Homo sapiens: one gene and its partner. The protein of the gene in region 2 purifies or fractionates together with the protein of the main gene of each other region. This does not show direct contact. Each region holds a gene or a part of one and is shown on either strand. Other genes may lie near its edges.

What was found.
Region 1: the proteins of TTYH1 (region 2) and DHRS7 purify together in Homo sapiens (affinity purification with mass spectrometry; one large-scale study listed by BioGRID and IntAct). This does not show direct contact.

What each region holds. Positions count from the first base shown.
Region 1 is NC_000014.9:60,151,899-60,155,398, reverse strand, and holds part of DHRS7 (dehydrogenase/reductase SDR family member 7 isoform 1 precursor), read left to right. Parts: intron 1-1,333; coding exon 1,334-1,440; exon of another isoform or gene 1,441-1,447; intron 1,448-2,220; coding exon 2,221-2,460; intron 2,461-3,500. UniProt on the Homo sapiens protein: NADPH-dependent oxidoreductase which catalyzes the reduction of a variety of compounds bearing carbonyl groups including steroids, retinoids and xenobiotics.
Region 2 is NC_000019.10:54,418,464-54,421,963, reverse strand, and holds part of TTYH1 (protein tweety homolog 1), read right to left. Parts: exon of another isoform or gene 3,247-3,500; intron 2,837-3,246; coding exon 2,658-2,836; intron 688-2,657; coding exon 576-687; intron 1-575. UniProt on the Homo sapiens protein: Calcium-independent, swelling-dependent volume-regulated anion channel (VRAC-swell) which plays a pivotal role in the process of regulatory volume decrease (RVD) in the brain through the efflux of anions like chloride and organic osmolytes like glutamate.

The DNA.
Region 1 (3,500 bases), on a different chromosome or scaffold from region 2:
TGGCTCATTGCAACTTCCGCCTCACAGGTTCAAGCGATTCTTGTACCTCAGCCTCCTGAGTAGCTGGGGCCACAGACGTGCACCACCACACCCAGCTAATTTTTGTATTTTTAATGGAGACGGGGTTTCACCATGTTGGCCATGCTGGTCTCGACCTCCTGACCTCAGGTGATCTGCCTGCCTCGGCCTCCCAAAATGCTGGGATTACAGGTGTGAGCCACCGCACCCAGCCATTATGTTCACATTGAAAGCAACTTCAAGTATAAAGTTATTATTTTTCATGGAACATTTATTAATAGTACCTAAACTGAGATAATTTTGAATTTTCCAACAGACCATTTTTTGGGCCATCTCTCTACCTGTCATTCTTTTAAATCTTTAACTTTGCTGATCGAGCTAACCACCCAGAAATGAGAGTTAGTTGCCACAGTAGTGCTCAGCAGGGCAACAGGCCTCTTTCATGATACTGCTTTCAAAGGCCTCTTGTGTTTTTGCACTGGGCCACTTCTTTTGATAGTTGTTCCTCTACTGCTGTGACTTGCAAGTCCTGTACTGGTGGAGTAGATGAACCAGGTCAGCATTTCTTACCTGGCACAAGGCTGTTTCCTTTTATCTTGCAGATCTGTAGTGCCCACTTTTTCATTTAATACAGTTGATGTTTCACGCTTAACTCTTTTGCCCATGAAGTCTTTTTACCTCTTCTATTTTCTATACTTGCTTGTTTTTCTTACTGATGTTACTTGTATTTCAAGGTTAGAGTCCAGGAAAATTAGTTTCAGTTGTTCTTTTGATGAACAGAAAGCCAATCACAAAGCAGCAGCATGTTTCTTGGTTGGGAATTTCAGGCATGTGTCCTTTTCCCTGTTTACCTCCAGGAATCCTTAGCCTCTGGAGAGAAGCTTCTATATGTCATTTGACTGTAGGACTCTGAGCTTCTTACTGATTTTAAGCACAAGTAGTTGTTTTGTGTGTAGAAGAGCAACTCATCTTTGTGAGCCTATCACAAAACAAAGGTACCTCTGTACTTCTAAAGAAATTGCTCTAAAATATTTGCTCTTTTCTAGTTTGTAGTATAATCTTGATTTCTATCAGAAATCAAATTGTAAAGTTAGACTGCATATTCAAGTTGCCATTCTACTTCCTGTGAGGCCAGCCAGCTTTTTGTCTGATATAACCACTAGTCCTCTTCCTGACCACCGAGAGGAACTTTCACAGGGCCACCCAGAAATGAGTTTGTTGCCAAGTCCTGTTGCAGGGTGGGTGTTAGTGGGAGTAGCAAGGAGCTTGACTGAACTATGGCATGACTTCCACACAAATTTTTGTCTTTATTTAGAGAATGGCAATTTAAAAGAAAAAGATATACTTGTTTTGCCCCTTGACCTGACCGACACTGGTTCCCATGAAGCGGCTACCAAAGCTGTTCTCCAGGAGTTTGGTAGAGTAAGTAGCATCTTATATTGATATAGTCTTGCTTTGAAGTAACTGCAGAAGAGATTCCCATCCGTGGTGCTGTCATACAAAGGGCTTTAGGCAAGTGGGGTCCATGCAGTGAGATCGGGCCCATGAGTTGGGCCCCTTAATCTCTGAGCCTTTGTCATTATGGAATTAGTACTTTTCATGTCTTAACAAGTACAAATTCCTCCATGTAGAACAAAAGAAGCTAAAAATTCACGGCTGCTTTTATTTATTTATTTATGTATTTTGAGACAAAGTCTTGCTCTGTCGCCCAGGCTGGAGTGCAGTGGTGTGATATCGGTTCACTGCAATCTCCGCCTCCCAGGTTTAAGGGATTCTCCTGCCTCAGCCTCCTGAGTAGCTGGGATTACAGGCATGCACCATCACGCCCAGCTAATTTTTATATTTTTTAGTAGAGATGGGGTTTCACCATGTTGGTCAGGCTGGTCTTGAACTCCTGACCTCATGGTCCACCCTCCTCAGCCTCCCAAAGTGCAGGGATTACAGGCTACTGTGCCCAGCTGGCTGCTTTTATTTATTTTAATGACAATTATTAACTTTCACAAAAAGTCACCTAAAACGGGAATTTAATTCCACAGGTAAATTCAGGGCTTTATTTTATCTTTTTAATTGCTGACTTCTGGAAATATACCATTGTTCCATTGATTCTTTAAGTTAACAAAATAACCAACCATCCATAGGAATTCCATCAATCTATCCACAAGACATCCCCCAAACACCCCTTTTCTGATTTTATTTAACTAGATCGACATTCTGGTCAACAATGGTGGAATGTCCCAGCGTTCTCTGTGCATGGATACCAGCTTGGATGTCTACAGAAAGCTAATAGAGCTTAACTACTTAGGGACGGTGTCCTTGACAAAATGTGTTCTGCCTCACATGATCGAGAGGAAGCAAGGAAAGATTGTTACTGTGAATAGCATCCTGGGTATCATATCTGTACCTCTTTCCATTGGATACTGTGCTAGCAAGCATGCTCTCCGGGTAAGGCTGCTCAAACTCAACTCTGATAGAACTGACTTAAATGTGTATATGGGGGATATGGCCATCACTGTGTGAGGTCCTTGGAACTGGAAGTGATGTGGGGAGACAGAGAGACCCAAGGAGACTTTTGGTAGAGGACACCCCCAGTAGATGCTAAAAAAGACTTGATCCACACATGCCTCTAACTTGTTGAACAAATAAATATGTATCAAGCACTGCATTGTGCCATGTACTACAACAGACCCTGGGGATATAAAGATAATAAGATGTGGTCTCTGCCCTCAAAAAGTGTATCATCTATTTAACATGTTACTCTTCACCTTATCCTTATTCCTACTAAATCTTCATGGAAAATTGGGGGTCCACTTCTCCTTTCTTCTACATACACTTCAGGATGTACTTTTTCCTCCCCATTTCTGTGACTTCTTTTCCTTGCCCCTTGTAGTTGGTGTTTATTTTGCCTGGTCTAATTATATATGCATGTCAGAAATAGGTACTTCCCACAGGATGATTAGTCCTGGTCTCATATCCTTACTGGGAAAAATCTTGACTGTATTCTCTCTGGTTTCATTGGAAGAAGAAAATCTAGTCAAGGCAGAGGCAAGGAGAGAAGCTTGATTTGGACTGCATAACTTACGATGTATAAATATTAGAAATGGATGAATTTTTAATGGTGGCTTAAGACTGGATATAAAGAAATTATAAGGCCAATAGGAAAAGAATGATTAAGGAAGACACAAAATTTATATTTAAAGCTGTTGAAGTCAGTTTAAGTAGAATGTTTCACTGTTGGAATCATGAGATGCAATAGCTACATGGTCATCATGGTTTCATGAAAATTTGAAGCTTTGGTTCTTTAGGACATCTTTTTTCTGCTGCAAAGTGCAGACAATTGCAGACAGTGATGAAGCGGAATGCTATACTGATGATTTCCTCATATTTAGTAACAGGCATCAGTCACTTCCTGTGGAGCAGTTGGGCAAGCCTCAGGCAGGCAGATGAGGGAGGGCGGCCACCCATCTGTTTGGCACCACGTGTCT
Region 2 (3,500 bases):
GAGCCCAGGGTAGTAAGTCCAGCCCCAGGACTGAGATTAAGTGTGGAGCTTTAGGTCTGAAGTTTTCATCTGCCTTCCAGAATCTGGGGTCTCAAGTCTGGGTCCCATGGTCTAGAGTCTGCAGCTGGACATGGAATCTAAGGCATGAAGTGGGGCCAGGCCTCAGCCCCAGGGCCCAGAATCCTGGAGCTGATGTCGGAGCTGAAGCCTCAAGTCGGGGACCTGGGCCTCAGGGCGGGGGTCCCTGAGCTTGCTTACGGGCCAAGAATCAGGTCTGGGGCCCTGGATCTGGCCCGTGGACAGGGGCTGGTGTCGCTGGTGCTTGGTTTCTGTGTGGCTTGGGGGTTCCAGGTAAGGTCCAGGGCTGGGCCTGTGTGTGAGGTCCTCAATTTGCAGCCAGGGTCGGGGGTTGGGTGGATAGTCTGAGGTCTGTGGGTCTCAGGATGAAGTTCTGAATCTGGGTTCCTAAGCTTCAAGCCTGGGGTCTTAGCTCTGAGTTTGGATCCCTTTGTCCTTGGGTGTGGGGAGCCCGTCCAGGTGTGGGTCTGGGGTCCCACTGGTTGCTGGCCCCTCACCAGGTGGTCAATGGTGCTGAGTGTGTGGTTGGCGTGCAGCAGCGCAGAGCTGAGCTGGGACACCCCATCACTGGTCTCACTGTTGCCATAGAAACCGATGCCAATGCCAGTGCTGAGCGGAGGAGGAGGGAGAGGAATCTCAGCGGGTCCCAGGACCCCGGGGGCCACCGTCCCCTCCCACCCCATCCCCTCCACCTCGCCTTCTTATCCACCCCTCCCATCTCAGCCCCACCTCATTGGGCCAGCCCGTGGGAAAAGGGCGACTTCAGCCTGGCCCCCGTCGGTTGCCAAGGGAACGGGAAGGCCTCACTCCCCCAGCGGAGGGACGTCATTGTGATGTTAATGGTGGGTGGAGTGGTGGGGGGGAGGGAGCCCCCGATTTAACTCGCACCTCCCTGGAGCAGAACCCCAGTCACACCCAGCTCCGGGATGGGCCGTCTTCCCCTCCCTAGGACTGCCTGCCCCACACCCTTCCCCCGCATCCTTTGCCAGGCAGGCAGCCCTCCTGGCACCTGTCCTAGGGTGCCCTAGGGTCCTTGGGGCCTGCAGTGCCAACCCTTCAGTGCTGAGACGTTCTCCGCCCCCACCTCCTGGGGGTTCCTAAGGGTACAAGGGGGGCAGCTGCCACCATCTCCTGGGGGGACGCTGAGCCTGGAGCTCTCGGCCTTCCCCCACCCGGGACCCAAGCGTCGGGCCAGCTGGGAGGGAAGTAAGGGAATGTGGGAGGGAGGCTGGAGGATGGGCGAGAAGCCGTGCCCCCGCCCCCACCCTACCGACACACAGAGCTCCATTGTGGGACCTGAATGTGGGGCCCCAGACCCCTCCCGTCCCCGCCCCCGGCCGGTGTCCCGCAGTGGAGGGGGCGGGAGCCTGACACCCTCCCGGTTCCCAGCCCCGGCTGGGCCTCCACCCCCATCCCTCGGGTCGGACGCCCAGTGTCCCCGCCCCATTGTTCAGAGTCCTACAAAGCTCCTCTTGTTCCCAGGCTGCGGGGGCTGGGGCCGTGTCTCTCCCCCACTGGGCCTTTGTCCACCTCCCCTGTCTCCCCCCACGCCAGAGAGCCGGAGGAGGAAGCGTCCTGAATACAGGCCACCCCTACAGGTCCCTCCCCTTGCCCGCTGTGGGTCCGGGGCAGGCGTCTGGCCCTCTGGGACCCCCCGTCTGTGGAAGAGGATTGCTGTCTGCAACCTGTGGGTGCTGCCCTGCCGGGGAGGGGGCTGTGCTCAGAGCTCGTTCTTGGTAGCTGGTGTGTTCACATTGGAAGCCCCCTAAGCTCGCTTTGAGGGGTGTGAGGGGGTCCTACTAACCTGGGTCTGAATCTCTGTGCTGCCTCTTAAGCCACGTGGCCTTGAAAGGTGACCTCCCCTCTGTCCCTGAGCCTTCCTCTTTGGAAACTGGGCCTGACACCCCTGAATCCAGCAGCATTATTGTGAGAAGGAATTAGACCAGCTCAGGTCTGGGCACAGATGAGGTGCTCTTGGAGGGTGATTATATCTATTTATCGTCCGTCTCCCTGATTAGAACATAAGCTGCACGAGGGGCTCCTTGCCTGGCTTGGTCAGTATCTGGCACATAGTAAATACTCAATAAACAGTTGTCGAATGAATGAGCTGGTGAATGACGGAATGACAGACATCACCAGTTAATGTTGGCTGAGAGTAGCTGCAAGTCAGACACTGTGCTTTCTCTCCATCTTACCCCCGCAGGAGGTGGGCGAGATGATAATGCCCAGTTTACAGATGTGGAAATTGAGGCCCAGGGAGACTATCACTCCCTTAGGTCACACAGCTATTCAATGGGAGAGCCACCAAAACCAGGCCATCTGACTGCCCCTGCGCCTTCTCACCAGATGGCTGCCCTTGATTCACTTCCTCTCCAGAGCCTCACTTTCTCCATCCATCAAATGGGACAGTCCTTCCTGCTGTGCGCTGAAGTGGGCTTGCAAATGGCAGGGACAGGGACGAGGGAGTTTCCTCCTTCCTGTCTGCTTCCTCCATGTCCCCGGAGGACACCCCCAGGAAGGCCAGCAAAGAGCTTGGGGAGCCCTGTCCCCACCGCCCACCCACCCTGGGGCCCCATTACCAGCCGGCGAGAAGGGCGACAATGCAGCTCCAGGTGACGCAGCCTCCCCCGGGCGAGGGGATCTTGGACCCGGGGGGCTCGGGGGGCCGGCAGCAGCAGAAGCGGATGAGGTAGACAGCGATGAAAATGAGGCTCAGGCCCAAGCCCAGGCCCGCCAAGGCCGCCACCAGCAACAAGGCCTGGGGAAGGGGGTGACATCAGACCTCCGAGGGCACCCGTGTGTTCCACACTCAGATCCCCCTTCCTGCGTGGCTGGGGGGTCGGGGTCTGGGATGTCAGAGTGAAGGTGGGAGACATCCCTGGCCTAATCTTGGGGGAGATTGGGTCCCAGCCCCTCCCAGGCTGGCAGCTGGGGCTCCAGGTGTCAGGGCCAGCTTGCTGGAGGGAGCTTCCAACTGGGGGCCCCAAGCCTTGGGTCCCAATTCTGCTCTGCCCTCCATTGGCTGTGCAATCTTTAGCAGGAACCGCCCCTTCTCCGAGCCTGGGTTTCCTTCTCTCTGCAGCCAGCAGTTGGAATGGAGGTTTTCCCAAGGACCTGCCAAGGCCCCTCCACAATCGTGTGGGATCAGGGGGCGGGTGGGGGTGTGGGGGCACCTGTTCCTGGTGCCTCGGGCCAGGCTGGGGGAGGCGTGCTTCCTCCCCCTCTCCTCCCTGCTCACTGTCTCCCCTGCTGCTGAGCGCTACACCCCACAGCGCCTGAGCTTGTCACCCAGGGACGGGACGAGGGGCTGTGTGGCAACGTGTGTGTGTGTGTGTATGCAAGACTCAGAAATGGAAACTGGAAGAGTGAAGACAGAACAGAAAGAGAGAGAGAGAGAGATGGAGGGAGGCACAGGCAGAAAG